Linked DNA regions of Homo sapiens. The protein of the gene in region 1 interacts with the protein of each later gene in a biochemical or structural test. Each region holds a gene or a part of one and is shown on either strand. Other genes may lie near its edges. The genes, in order: KLF2 and WWP1.

Evidence for each region.
Region 2: the proteins of KLF2 (region 1) and WWP1 form a complex in vitro, tested with the Homo sapiens proteins (one study listed by BioGRID).

The regions. Positions count from the first base shown.
Region 1 is NC_000019.10:16,323,424-16,327,783, reverse strand, and holds the start of KLF2 (Krueppel-like factor 2), read right to left. Parts: upstream 2,959-4,360; 5' UTR 2,861-2,958; coding exon 2,786-2,860; intron 2,569-2,785; coding exon 1,752-2,568; intron 929-1,751; coding exon 753-928; 3' UTR 1-752.
Region 2 is NC_000008.11:86,464,418-86,466,960, forward strand, and holds part of WWP1 (NEDD4-like E3 ubiquitin-protein ligase WWP1), read left to right. Parts: intron 1-2,376; coding exon 2,377-2,476; 3' UTR 2,477-2,543. UniProt on the Homo sapiens protein: E3 ubiquitin-protein ligase which accepts ubiquitin from an E2 ubiquitin-conjugating enzyme in the form of a thioester and then directly transfers the ubiquitin to targeted substrates.

The DNA.
Region 1 (4,360 bases):
GCAATTTATGGCTCAAAGAACAACCTTAAAATAACCCTCCCTCAGTCCTAAAATGCAGTGTCTAAATTTACAGAAAAACCCACAGGTTCCTGGCAGGCAGGCACAGCAGCTGGCAGTCCCGGTGCTGGCAGACGCAGGACCCACTGCACACGATGCTTTAGTGGGGCTGCCCTCCATCAAACTCTCCGCTCCCCCCTCCTCCCAAGTGCCCCAAGGCCCCAGTTCCAAGCAACCAGACCAGTGCTGTGATTTTTTTTAAAAGATGCAAAACTTTTTAATTAAAAAAAAAACCAACCCAGCAAAATCTTATAAAAACGAACCAGGTAGCCCAAAAATGCCCACCTGTCTCTCTATGTACAGTAATACAATATTTGTCAGTCACTATATACAATATTATAAAAAATGCCGCAGACAGTACAAATTAAGGCCCTTATTTCTCACAAGGCATCACAAGCCTCGATCCTCTAGTGTAGACCCGGTGGGAGAGAAGATGCCACTTAAATTATTGCACCATTTTGAAAAACAAAACTCGTCAAGGAGGATCGTGGTCTTTTCCCACCGGGCCTTCAGTCACAGACGGGGGCTGGGGTGGTGGCGTCGTCGTCGTCGTCATCGAGGGAGACCCTCTGTAGCCACGCTGTGCCCGGCCCGGTTCTCTGGGTCCAATAAATACCAGTCACAGTTTGGGAGGGGGCCGCGCCCGGCGCGTGGGACCCGCCACGGCCGCGCGCAGGTGGGCGGGGGCGTCCCGGCTACATGTGCCGTTTCATGTGCAGCGCCAGGTGATCGGAGCGCGAGAAGGCACGATCGCACAGATGGCACTGGAATGGCCGGTGGCCCGTGTGCTTTCGGTAGTGGCGCGTGAGCTCGTCTGAGCGCGCAAACTTCCAGCCGCAGCCGTCCCAGTTGCAGTGGTAGGGCTTCTCACCTGCAGGGAGGGGGCGAGAGTAAGCGTCAGTTCCCCTCCCAGGACAGGGCACGTATGGCTACCCCGGCGAGCGCAACCTATCCCTAACCAGGGCCTTGACGCGCTCCCCGCGGTAGTGTTGCGCCCCTGAGGGATCCTTGCCCTACATCCCCAACTCCCCCCACAATCCGGATCCTCACCCCCAGGGGGTCGGAGGAGCGCAAGGTCCACTCCCCACTGTTGTCAGCCACGCTCCCCGACGGGTCCTAAGCATGCACCCTCTCTCCAGCATTCTAAGACACGGAATCTCTCAAGGTTTCCCAGCGAACACTCCCTCCCCAAGGTCCTGAGCCTTGTCCCCAGAGGAGTCCCAAGCCTGAGCGCCCTCCCCAACTTCCTGAGACGCAGCATCTCCCCGGGGTTCCTAAACGCGCACCTACTCCCCAACTACCTGAGCCTCAGCCCCGGGGATTCTGAGCCAAGTGCCCAGCGGCTCCTAAACCTGCTCCCCCTCCCCAACTTTCTGAGACTGTCTCCCTAGCCACGCCTCCAGGAGGTTTTCTAAGTGCTCTTCCCAACCTCCGGAGGCCCCCCTCGTCCTAAGCGTGCAAGCCCCCACCCCAACCTCTCGGATCACACTTCCTTAGGGAGTGTTCCTGTGTGCCCCCCCAACCAACCTCCCGAGCCACGCCTCCTGGGGAGTCCTAAGCGTGCACCACCTGCCAGATCCCCCTGAGCCACGCCCCAAGGGAGGTCCTAAATTCATTTTCTGGCGCGCGCTGGGAATCCGACCTCTCCTCCCGCGTCCCCCCGCCTGCGCTCCTGGCTCGTGCGTGCCGCCCACCTGTGTGCGTGCGCAGATGCGCCTTCAGATGCGAACTCTTGGTGTAGGTCTTGCCGCAGCCCGCGTAGCTGCAGGTGTGAGTGGCGGTGCGTTTGCGGGGCCAAGAGCGGCGGCCGCGCTTTGGCTTGGCCTCCAGCAGCTCCAGCGGGGACGCAGGCGGCGTGAGGAGACCGCGGGCGGCGGGGGGCGCCAGGCCCAGGGCTGCCGCGGCGGCGGCCGCGTCGTCGAAGAGACCGAAGGCTGGGGGCGCAGGCGGCGCGTAATGCAGGCCGGGCCCGGGCGCGCCGAAACCAGGGCCACCGAAAGGCGGCGGGAAGGAGGCGCGCGGACCGGGCGCGGGCAGGCGCGCGGGGCCGTCGGGGCTGAGCGGCGGTGTGTCGGGCGGCGGCGGGGGGCGGCCCCCGGGACCTCGCATGCACGAAGCCGCCGGGCCCGGGGCGCCCTCGCGCTTGAGGCCGCGCGGTCCACGGGTCAGCCCGGGGGCGCAGCCGTAGCCGCCGCCGCCGTCCGCTTCAGGGGGCTCGGCCTTGACCAGGCGGCCGGGCGGCGCCAGCAGAAAGCGGCCGTGCAGTGCGGGCCCCAGCGGCGCATCCAGCTCGGGTCGCAGCAGCTCAGACACCAGGCCACCCGCGGGGGCGCTGTAGGGCGGGGGCGCGCCGGGTTCGGGGTAATAGAACGCAGGCGGCGGGGGCGGCGGCGGCGGCTCCGGGGCGGCCTCGGCGCCCAGGCCATCCAGCCCCATGGACAGGATGAAGTCCAGCACGCTGTTGAGGTCGTCGTCGGTGCCGCCGGACTCGGGTTCGGCGCGCGGCCAGCGCTGCGGGCGACAGGGCAATGGGCGTGAGCGGGCGGCGGGGCTCGGGGGGCGCTGCTTGCCTTTTACCACCCTAAGTCCGCGATCCCCGTGGCCCGCATCCTCCTCTCCTGAGTCTGCAGTCCCCGCCTTCGCGTCCTGTCACCCCGCAGCCCACGTTCTACTACCCCGAGCCCGCCGCCCACGGTCCCGGCCGCCCCGCCGTCCCCGCCGCCCTCACCTCCTGCAGGCCGCGCTCGCGGCACGGGCTGGCGAAAGTGGAGAAGGACGGCAGGATGGGTTCACTCAGCGCCATGGCCGGGACCCGGGGAGAAAGGACGCGGACGGGGACACCGGTGAGTGGCTGCCCGAGGCCGGGCTGGTCGGGGCGCGGGCGGGCGGGGACGGCTCTGTGGGCCGCGGCCGGGCCCGCCCAAGCCTTATAGGCGCGGCGCGCGCGGGGGCCGGGCCAAAGCGGCGGCGGCGGAAACGCGTCCCGGATGGGGACGAGCTCCGGGCGCAGCCTAAATTTAGCCGCGGTATATAAGCCGGCGGGCGGCAGCGGCCGTGGCCACTGCGGCGGCCTGGGCCTTGCGCTGACAGCCCGGCCCCTCGCGCGCCGCCAGGGCCGCGCCTCCCCCTCTCCCGGGCCCCGCCCCCGCCCGTCTCCCCGGCGACGTTGTCAACACGCGCTCCACAACAGCGGCGTGACGCTCAGGGATCCCCCGGGCGCCCCGGGCTCCCGCCTGCGCGAGCATCCCGGGGACCTGGAGCGGGGGCGGTGTCGGGGCCTCTCAGAGACTCTCAGGGGAGCACCGGGCTTGGCGGTCTCCCCGGATCCCTTGACGGAAGGGGAGATTGGCTCCAGCCTCAGAGAGGGCTGCAGAACCCTGGATGGATGGGAAGTCTGGAGTCTCCAGGATTCATGGATGGGTGAGGCTGGGCCCCTCATCTGTTGTGGGACCACCCAGAGGGACCCACCGTGTGCACATCACCCTGTAAAAAAAAACACCTTGTGTAGACCTGGTGCAGTGGGTCACATCTGTAATCCCACCGCTTTGGGAGGCTGAGACAGGAGGATCACTCGAGGCCAGGAGTTCAAGACCAGCCTGGGCAACACAGTGGCCCCCATCTCTTAAAAAATAAAAAAAATTAGCTGGGTGTAGTGGGAGGCTGAGGTGGGAGGATCGCTTGAGCCCAGGAGGTCGAGGCTGCAGTGAGATACAATCACACCACTACACTCCAGCCTGGGTGACAGAGGAGACTGTCTCAAAAAAACAAACAAAACAAAACTTTTGTGTGGTAACATCAAGACACATTAAATCTTTGACATTTGAGACACCCACCCCCTCCTCCCCAACCTCAATAAGCCCGTCAAGTGCAGGGAAACTGAGGCAGAGGTGGCTGGGAGAAGTTGGAGTTGCGGCAGGCACAGGCAGGCTGGGTTCCTTTACTGACTTCCATAAATGAATTAAGTAACTCAGAGGACGGTGATGACAGTCATTCCCCCAATACAGCTCCAGCATCGGGGGCATCAGAGGACAATGCTGCCCAATGGGTCCCTTCAATGCTCCACCTCTGTCCCCCACACCATATCCCTGCTGGCCAGGGACTGTCACTCCTGTTACAACTGTCTGCCAGCCCTGGGTAGGCACTGGGGACACAGTAACCAAGAGATAGACAAGATCCCTGCCCTAGGGGACCTCCACTTTAGTGAAGGAGGGAAGGATAGAGGTTTATTCATTTGAGTTTTTTTGAGACAGGGTCTCCCTCTGTTGCCCAGTCTGGAGTGTAGTAGTGCAATCACAGCTCACTG
Region 2 (2,543 bases), on another chromosome or scaffold:
AAAGTGAATTAATATTTTTTAAACTTCTGTTTTAACTTCTAATCCAGTAAATATCAGTAGCTATAATTCATATAAATAAAAGCTCTTTGCAGTTGGAAATCCATTTTTTTTTTCCCAAGATAGAGTCTTGCTGTGTTACCTATGTTAGAGTGCAGTGGCACAGACACAACTCACTGCAGCCTCAACCTCCTGGGTTCAAGCAATCCTCCTGCCATAGCCTCCTCAGTAGCTGGGACCACCAGTGCACGCCACTATGCCTGGCTAATTTTTTAATTTTTTGTAGGGACAAAGTTTTGCTGTGTTGTCCCAGGTGGGTCTTAAACTCTGGGCTCAAGCTGTCCTGCCTTGGCCTCTGAAAGTGCTGGGATTATAGGCATGAGCCACTGCTCCCAGCCAAGGTTGACAGTATTTTTAAGAGTGAAAAGGAGTCCTGTGACCAAAATTTGAAGACCTCTGCCTTCAATAAAAGTGATAGATCCATATGTATACACACATGCGCGCGCGTGTGTGTGTGTATTGAGAGAGAGATTTTTGAGTCAAAGGGAGAATTAAAATAGATTTCAAATTTTGTGAAAGGAAAGTAATTACCACCCACTGATTTCTGTTTTCTCAAAGTATAAGGAGAAGTCACTGGCTAAGAGTGAAGAAAGGAAAAACTTTTGAGAGAAAGAAGGAATTGGGAGAATTGTTAGAGAATAGGCAAGTATTCATTAGAGGAACACGGCTAAGATTGCTAGGCAAAATTGGATTGCTCACTTGGATTAGAGCATGAAACAAGTTGACAGCAAAGAGCATAAGCTTCCTTTCCCCACCACAGCCCCCTCCCCACCCATAGCAACTCGAAAGCAGCAAAAGTTTTTGAAGAGTGGCATAAACTGGTATGTCTTTTTAGCAAAAAGTAAAAAAGAAACAAAACAAATAGACCCAAAGAATTCTCTGATGGTCCAGGTAAGAGATGATGGGGAAGCATATACAAAGGGATGTAGTGGCAGTAGAAATGATGAGGAGGAGCCTGGGCAACATGACAAAACTTCGTCTCTACAAAAAAAAATACAAAAGTTAGCTGGCCATGGTGGCATGCGCCTGTACTCCCAGCCACTCCAGGGACTGAGGTGGGAGGAGGGAGGATTGCTTCAGCCTGGGAGGTCGAGGTCGCAGTGAGCCGAGACAGTAGCCTAGGCGACACAGCCAGACCCTGTCTCCAAATAAATAATCAGGAGAAAAAATGGAATATTTGGTAGATAGAATGACAGAATTTGGCAAAGGCTATATGTGAAAGATGTAAGAGAACAGAAAGTGACTGGTTGTCTTGTATAGGAAGTATTAAAAAATAATTTTTTTTTCTGACCTTGTTATCATACTCTACCTTGAAGTATAAAGGGGAGGGCAGTATATGGTCTGCTTAGTTGCTGCTATTAATATCTTTAACTTCATTTAAAATACAAAGAATACAGTCTTAGAACAGCACTGTTTTATTTAGATGCCTTGTTTCAAAGGCTCTTTCCTGACTCTGACATGGGAGGGTCAAGGGCACATGGAAAGTGGTGACAGTGGTAAGAAGGCACCTGGATAATCTCTAGAAACCTTCCACATGGGAAAATGAAGGTACAGAAGGGTTCTGACTTACTCAGGGCTATCTCACTAGTCACTGCTACTGTAGGGACCAAAACCCTGAACACCCGAATCCTAATCTAGCTACTCAGTGCTGTACCTCACAAAACGAAATGTTATTCCACCTTTGTAAACTGAAAAATAATAGTTATTTTAAGCATTTTTTAGTATTTTAAAATTTTTATCAGTTAATACCAGAATGGAATTGAGTATGGCAAGATTGAAAAAGTGTCATTTTAGAAGAGTTTATATATGTGGTTAGATTATTTGAAAAGACAAAGAAACATATATATTTGTTAATTGACTGTCTCTACCCCAGAATGTAAATTCCATGAAGACAGGGATTTTAGTTTTCTTCACTGTATCACTAGCTTATCAGTTATATAAAAAATTCTCGGTAAATGACTGATGAATGAGTGACTGAGTGGATGAAAGAAATGGACTCTTATCCTAAGAGAAGTTAAGAGGACTCATGACACATGTAACAGGAATAGTAAAAAGAAAATGGATTTTTTTTTTTTTTTAAATTTGTCTTTATCCATATTGCTACACTTATTATTTGTAATTCCATTTTCCTCTTGGAGATGTTAAAATAGTTTTTATATGTAAGTCTTAAATTTAGATTACTCTAAATACTTCTGGCAAAATTTTAACATATATAGTATACATATATCCATTCAGCATTTCTATGTGCTTTGAAAAGTATTCTATTAGATTTTTTTCATTTTATTGAAAACATCTGATTTTGTTTTTGTTTCTGTTCAGTTTTAATCGCTTGGATCTACCACCATATAAGAGTTATGAACAACTAAAGGAAAAACTTCTTTTTGCAATAGAAGAGACAGAGGGATTTGGACAAGAATGAATGTGGCTTCTTATTTTGGAGGAGCTCTTGCATTTAAATACCCCAGCCAAGAAAAATTGCACAGATA